2 separate regions of the Homo sapiens genome follow, and region 1 is linked to region 2. Evidence: fine-mapped expression QTL. Tissue or cell type: whole blood. Region 2 holds a variant in brackets; the other region holds the start of a gene. All regions are shown on one strand. Distances are between the middles of the regions.

Region 1 (2,721 bases), 21 kb before region 2:
AATGATTTCAGCAAAGAGAGAAAGGTGAAACTATTTTATTGGCACTGGCTGTGATGCTGGCTGTGAGCAGATGCTGGCTGTGGGCAGAACAGGGGAGAGGGCCATTGAGAGGCCCTTGTGACTGGAGAGTCCAATCAAACGTAAAGTGTGTGACAGGGAGGGACTCCTCCAAATTCTGCAGGTCTCTCCAGACTGGGGATCCCTAACACAAGAGGAAGTCTTATGCCCCAAGTGCCAGAATTCCAGGAAACTCATGCAATGAAACCAGTCCTCTTGTGTCAGAGTTTGCAGCTAGAAGCGGTTCAAGGGATGGAGGACTCTCTGGGAGCTGGAGTGGTACGCTGCAAAGAACCTAAATATGCCATAACTTCCTTTACTTCCCTCTCCAAGAATTTCCAATTGCTCTTCCAGCCTATTCTGCCTGACAGGTTAGAAAGTTTTCAATAGTTTTCAATAGAGGTTCGTTTACTTGCATTGAATTATCTCATGAAGGTCAGCTTGATTCGGGCACATTAAAGACAGAGTCGGAAGAACACATTTCCCTAAGTTTTATTCTAATGTACAACACATGTGATCATTTGCGATGGGGTCTAGGCAGACAAGGCAGGTAACAGGGAGTCCTTCCAACCAGGGGTTGGAACAAAGGAGGCTTGATTTGGTGACTCTTGAGACATTTGGCTCACTGCTGTGATGCTGTGAGAGATTAGCTGTGCAATGTTTGGGCTCCTTAAAAGGAAGTTTATTTAAAATAAAACTTACCTGCACGTATGTAACACTGTAGACACAGATCCTTCCCACAGTATATTTAATCTCTGCAGAATTCACTGGGAGGGGAGGGGAGCCAGTGGGACCTCTTGGCTATTACACAGGTTGGCACTTCCAGAGAGAACAGTCTTGGCATCACAGGCTTCAGGCATACTCAAAGCTCTTCTCCCTTCTGATTCCAGTTTCTCCATGCCCTGCAGGGCCTCTTGGGATTATTGTATTCTGGAAAGCAAACAAAGTTGGACACTGTCTCTTTAAATAATAGAGGCTGAGAACCTCTCAGGCCACCATGACATATCCCAGCATTGGACCAGCCCCTGAATAAACTGGAAAGACGCCTGGTCTGGCTTCAGTTACAGGGAGCACCACCAGGGAACATCTCGGGGAGCCTGGTTGGAAGCTGCAGGCTTAGTCTGTCGGCTGCGGGTCTCTGACTGCCCTGTGGGGAGGGTCTTGCCTTAACATCCCTTGCATTTGGCTGCAAAGAAATCTGCTTGGAAGAAGGGGTTACGCTGTTTGGCCGGGTGAGTTTTATTGGCAAACTGTGCCTCTGGGTGATGTGTGCCTATGCTTTACAAGAATTGCCTAATTTCCCACCCCCTGCAAGCCGCAAATGAAAAGGATTGCAGGAGAGATGGTGCATTTGTGTTGGAATTGACTGGAGATTCAGAGGGCTTTTTATATCCTTGGTTAAAAGGTGGATATATACTCTGGCTGGGGAGGTGGGGGGCCATCTGAGAGCATCTAGAAACCCTAATGCATCCAGATTGAAAGGAAGAAAGGAATCTAGATGCTTTTTCCCCCATGGAAAATAGCTGTGCACACACAGCTGGCAGGTGGCCTTGGTAAGCAGGTTAGGGAGAAGCTGCCACCTGTGGCAGAGCCTTGGCCAGCCGGGCTCTGGGTGTGGCAAGCCTGGTCAGCAGGCACTGAGTAGCACTTCCTCTGCCACCATTGAGAACCAGGCAGGAGGCCAGAGGCAGTGAGGGACAGATGGGTTGGGTTTACCTGTCTGGCAGTATATGGTGTGGCTGTGACCTGGGTGGTTATTGATTAAACTATTGGGTTCAAAAGAAAGGAAGAAGCGAGCTGTAGCACCCAATATATGCACTTTTCTGTATGTGTATTAGACTTTATTAAAAAGTTTATTTGAAAATCACAAAGGAAGGGAAAGAAAACCCTGAGTTAGATATGCTCATATTTCTAAAGTGCTTACTTAGAACAGTCCTGAGTATGTTGTGATCACATAAGTGTTGGTTAAATAAATAAATGTCCAAATGGCATAAAACAAAGTAATAATTTCTAGAGCAAATCTAACTTATAAAATGACCTGTGGAGGAAAGAAAACACTGCCATGTCTTTAGACTTTTTTTTCTACTTGCATATGCACTTTCATTTATAAATCTTTATCTATCTATCTATATCTATCTATCTATCTATCTATCTACCTACCTACCTACCTACCTATCAGAGTTACAAGCTACTTTAGTGCAGAGGTGGTCAGGTCTTCCCTGAAAGGTTGATGTGAGAGTTAAATGTGATATAATAATAGTGGTGGCAATTTGGGCACTGGGCCCTTATTATGTTGCAGACACGATGTTAACTGCTTTGTACATATTGTCTCCTTCAATCACCACCATAAACCTTTAAAGCAGGCATTACTATTTCCTTTTGCACCTGAGAAAACTGAAGCTCAGTGAACTTGAGAAATTGCCCAAATTCACAACAAAAGTAAGCAGGGTGATTAGGTTTGTTGGAGCCCAGAGCCAGAGTGCCTAACCACTGCACCATACTGCCTCTCACAGACCATGCATATAAAGTCCAGGCAAAGTGCTTGGCATATAACGGGCACTGTAAATGCAGTGTTTACAAGTACACTTCATTTTAATCTGATAACACGATAGTTTTAAAAAGATCATTGTTTGAAGATCTTTTTCAAATTTATTTTTACTTACC
Region 2 (3,046 bases):
AGCTTAGAAATGTCCTCAGGGCCCTGTGGGGTTCCCTTTGAGCAACAACGAGAGCTCTTGAATCTTGCACCAGCCTTTTGGAGCTGGAATGGAGTTTGCTTTCTCCTGGGCTGGGCTCTGTTTTTTTTCCTCTCGCTGTCCTTGTGTAGCTTTTGATCAATGGCACTGGAGGAAAGGAAAATCCCTTGTTGTTTTCCTGGGCATGTGGAAGCCCAGTCCTGCCCAGAATTCCACTAGCCCTTTGAGTTTTGGAATCCTGACTCTTAGTAAGTCAATAGAGTGCTGCATCTGTTTTTACCTTTGTAATCTTTTAAATTGGTTTTAATTATTTAAGTAATACAAGTATTATAATACATGAAAATATCCTCAACTGAAAGGCTTCTTGACCAAACTCTTCTTCGTTGCAACAGTAGTTCCTGGGGGAACCCACTGACATCAATTTGACACAACTTTGGCTCTTTCTCTACGAATATTTGCATGCCTGTGGATGTCTATACGCAATTACATAGTTTTTTGGTGTTTGTTTTCATAATGATGACATGTTGTGTGTGCACCTTACTCTTTTCATTGTCTTGGAGACCTTTCAAAGACTCTTCATTTTCTAACTCATGATTTTTTTAACTGCTGCAAAATATTTCATTGTGAGGATATACCATAATTTATTTTCCCTCATAGAAATGCTACAATCAATGTCCTTATTTATTTTCCTCTGAGTATATGTTCACTGTTTTTCCAGGATATAGTAGATAAGCACTTGAACACATATAGTGTCATTACGCTAGAGGTGTTACAATTTTTAAACTACTTTTAATGGCAAAAATTACAATTACTTTTGTATCAACCTAATATATTCTGCCACAAAATGGCTGGTCACAAAAGGATTATAATAATAATATTATTATTATTCCTGTGAATGGTGTCTGCAGGTAGCTATCACTTATTTGTTCTGCTGATATTATCCATTTTTTTTGAATTTTGCCTATTGGCTGGATGAAAATTGGTGTCACCCTCCTCATGGGTTTCTCTTGCATTTCCTTGGTTGCTAGTGAGGTTGGGCACCTTTTACGATGTTTATTGGCTGTTCATATTTCTCCTTTGCTAATCACATGGCTTTTCAATTTTATACTTAGCTGTTTTCTCTTTGTTCTGTCTGTAATTTAATTTTGTTAATGATGCGAACTAGAGATTTAATTTTATGTTTTACCAAATGAATAGCCAACACTATGTATTGTCTGTTGTATTTTTCCCCACTGGTTTATATGATGTTGTGTATTATCTACCAAATTTACATGTATGCTTCCAAAGTCTTATTCCATCCCATTCTTTTATTTTTCTTTCATGATTAACACCATATTTTTGAATTGCTAAAACTTTATAATATAAATATAAGCTTTGTATGTCTATAAATAAAATAC[A/G]TTTTATTAATTATAATTATATGTTATATAATTATAATATAAGCACTTGAACATATATACTTCTATAATTATATATTATATAATTATATATCATACTTCTATGATATGTTCTATAATTATATATTGTATATATCATAGTTCTATGATATGTTCTATAATTATATATTATAAAGTTACAATTAATTGTATATTTAATTTATACCATATACTGTAATAAGCAAAATATAGAAATATGTTTTAAATCTGGTAGGTGGTATCTTGACTCATTGGTTTTATATGTTTTTCTGATTTTCTTTTTGTTCATTTGTTCGTTTTGGTTTTTAGTTGCTGTTGTGTTTACTTCAAATTTTTTCTTATCTGTCATTGCTCATTGTTTTTTAGATGAATTTTTAATTGATTTTTTTCCAGTTCCAGTTGCAATATGGATTAGGACAGCATTGAATTTGTAGATTATTTTGGATGAAATTGGCATCTTTATAACTTTGAGTGTTTCTATCCAGGAACTTAGTATGTTTCTTTAGTACTTCTTTTATGTACTTGAATAAAATTTGTCTAACTTGTTGATGTATCCCCAAAGAACCAGACATTTTTATTAAATGTATTTTAATATTTTTTTCTGTCTCATTAGTCTGTGCTTTTATCCATATTAAGTCAATTAATTTTTGGACTTATTTCATTGTTTTTTTTCTGGCTTCTTGAGTTGAAAGTGTAGTTCACTCTTTTTAAGGATTTTTCTAGCAAATGCTTAGAAGTGTATACATTGTCCTCTGAGAACTGCTTTGGTTACAACCCACAGGTGTGCCATGTGGCTCTCTATATAATTCCTTGCTGAAGAAGTTTTTACTTTTCATCTTGTTTTTTTTAATCCGAGGAATTATCTGGAACACTGTTTTTAAATTTCCAAATTTATTTTGGCTAGTTTGTTTTTAATGTCTAATTTCTGTTTGCCTTTAGGTATATGTTGAGCCTACATCATTTCTGCTTCTATATTTATTGAGATATTCTTTGTTGCCCTTATAGTCAGTTTGAAAAGCTGTCCCATGTGTGTTTGAAAATAACTTTGCTATATAGACACAAGTTTTCTATACATCTATTAGGACAGATTTGTTAATCCTCTTATGTAATCTATATTCTTTCTTCTTTTTGGTCTACCTGACATCTATTTTGAGGAAGGAAGCTAAAGTCTTCTACTGTTATTGTGATTTTAACAATTTCTTCTCATATTTTGATTACTTTTTGATTTTAACTTTTTCAGGCCATGTTATTATATGCATAATGATTTATTTTCTTCAGTCATAGATCATGTAAACCAGAAGTAAAGATCAAATAAACCAAATCTTTCCTCTATGAAACAACCAAACAACTCTCTGGCCACTTTTATCCTTTCAACATAAGTTCTATTTTTTATTATTAATTTATCTTCTTTCTTTTTTGTTAACATTTGCCTGAAGCTTCTTTTCAGAATCTTTTTTGTTTTTGACTGTTGCTTGTTTTAGGTGTATCTATTATATTAGAATATAGCTACAATGTCTCTCTTTTTTTTTTTTTTTTTTTTTTTTGAGACAGAGTCTCTCTCTGTGCCCAGGCTGGAGTGCAGTGGTGTGATCTTGGCTCACTACAACCTCCACCTC

What was found. PIP is the estimated chance that this variant, and not a neighbour inherited with it, causes the effect.
Region 1: PMP22 starts here. The variant in region 2 is fine-mapped to the expression of PMP22 in whole blood (INTERVAL, PIP 0.97).

Annotation. Positions count from the first base shown.
Region 1 is chr17:15,263,722-15,266,442 of GRCh38, reverse strand. PMP22 (peripheral myelin protein 22) reads left to right here and starts at 1,117. Exons shown (of 5, transcript NM_000304.4): 1 at 1,117-1,289. It overlaps LOC124903931 (a long non-coding RNA gene), which reads right to left. Exons shown (of 2, transcript XR_007065632.1): 2 at 534-987.
Region 2 is chr17:15,242,180-15,245,225 of GRCh38, reverse strand. The region is part of intron 3 of PMP22 (peripheral myelin protein 22); the gene reads left to right. Among named protein-coding and RNA genes, the nearest start is that of MIR4731, 8.0 kb to the left of the region's middle. The variant A/G (reference allele first, on the strand shown) is at 1,416.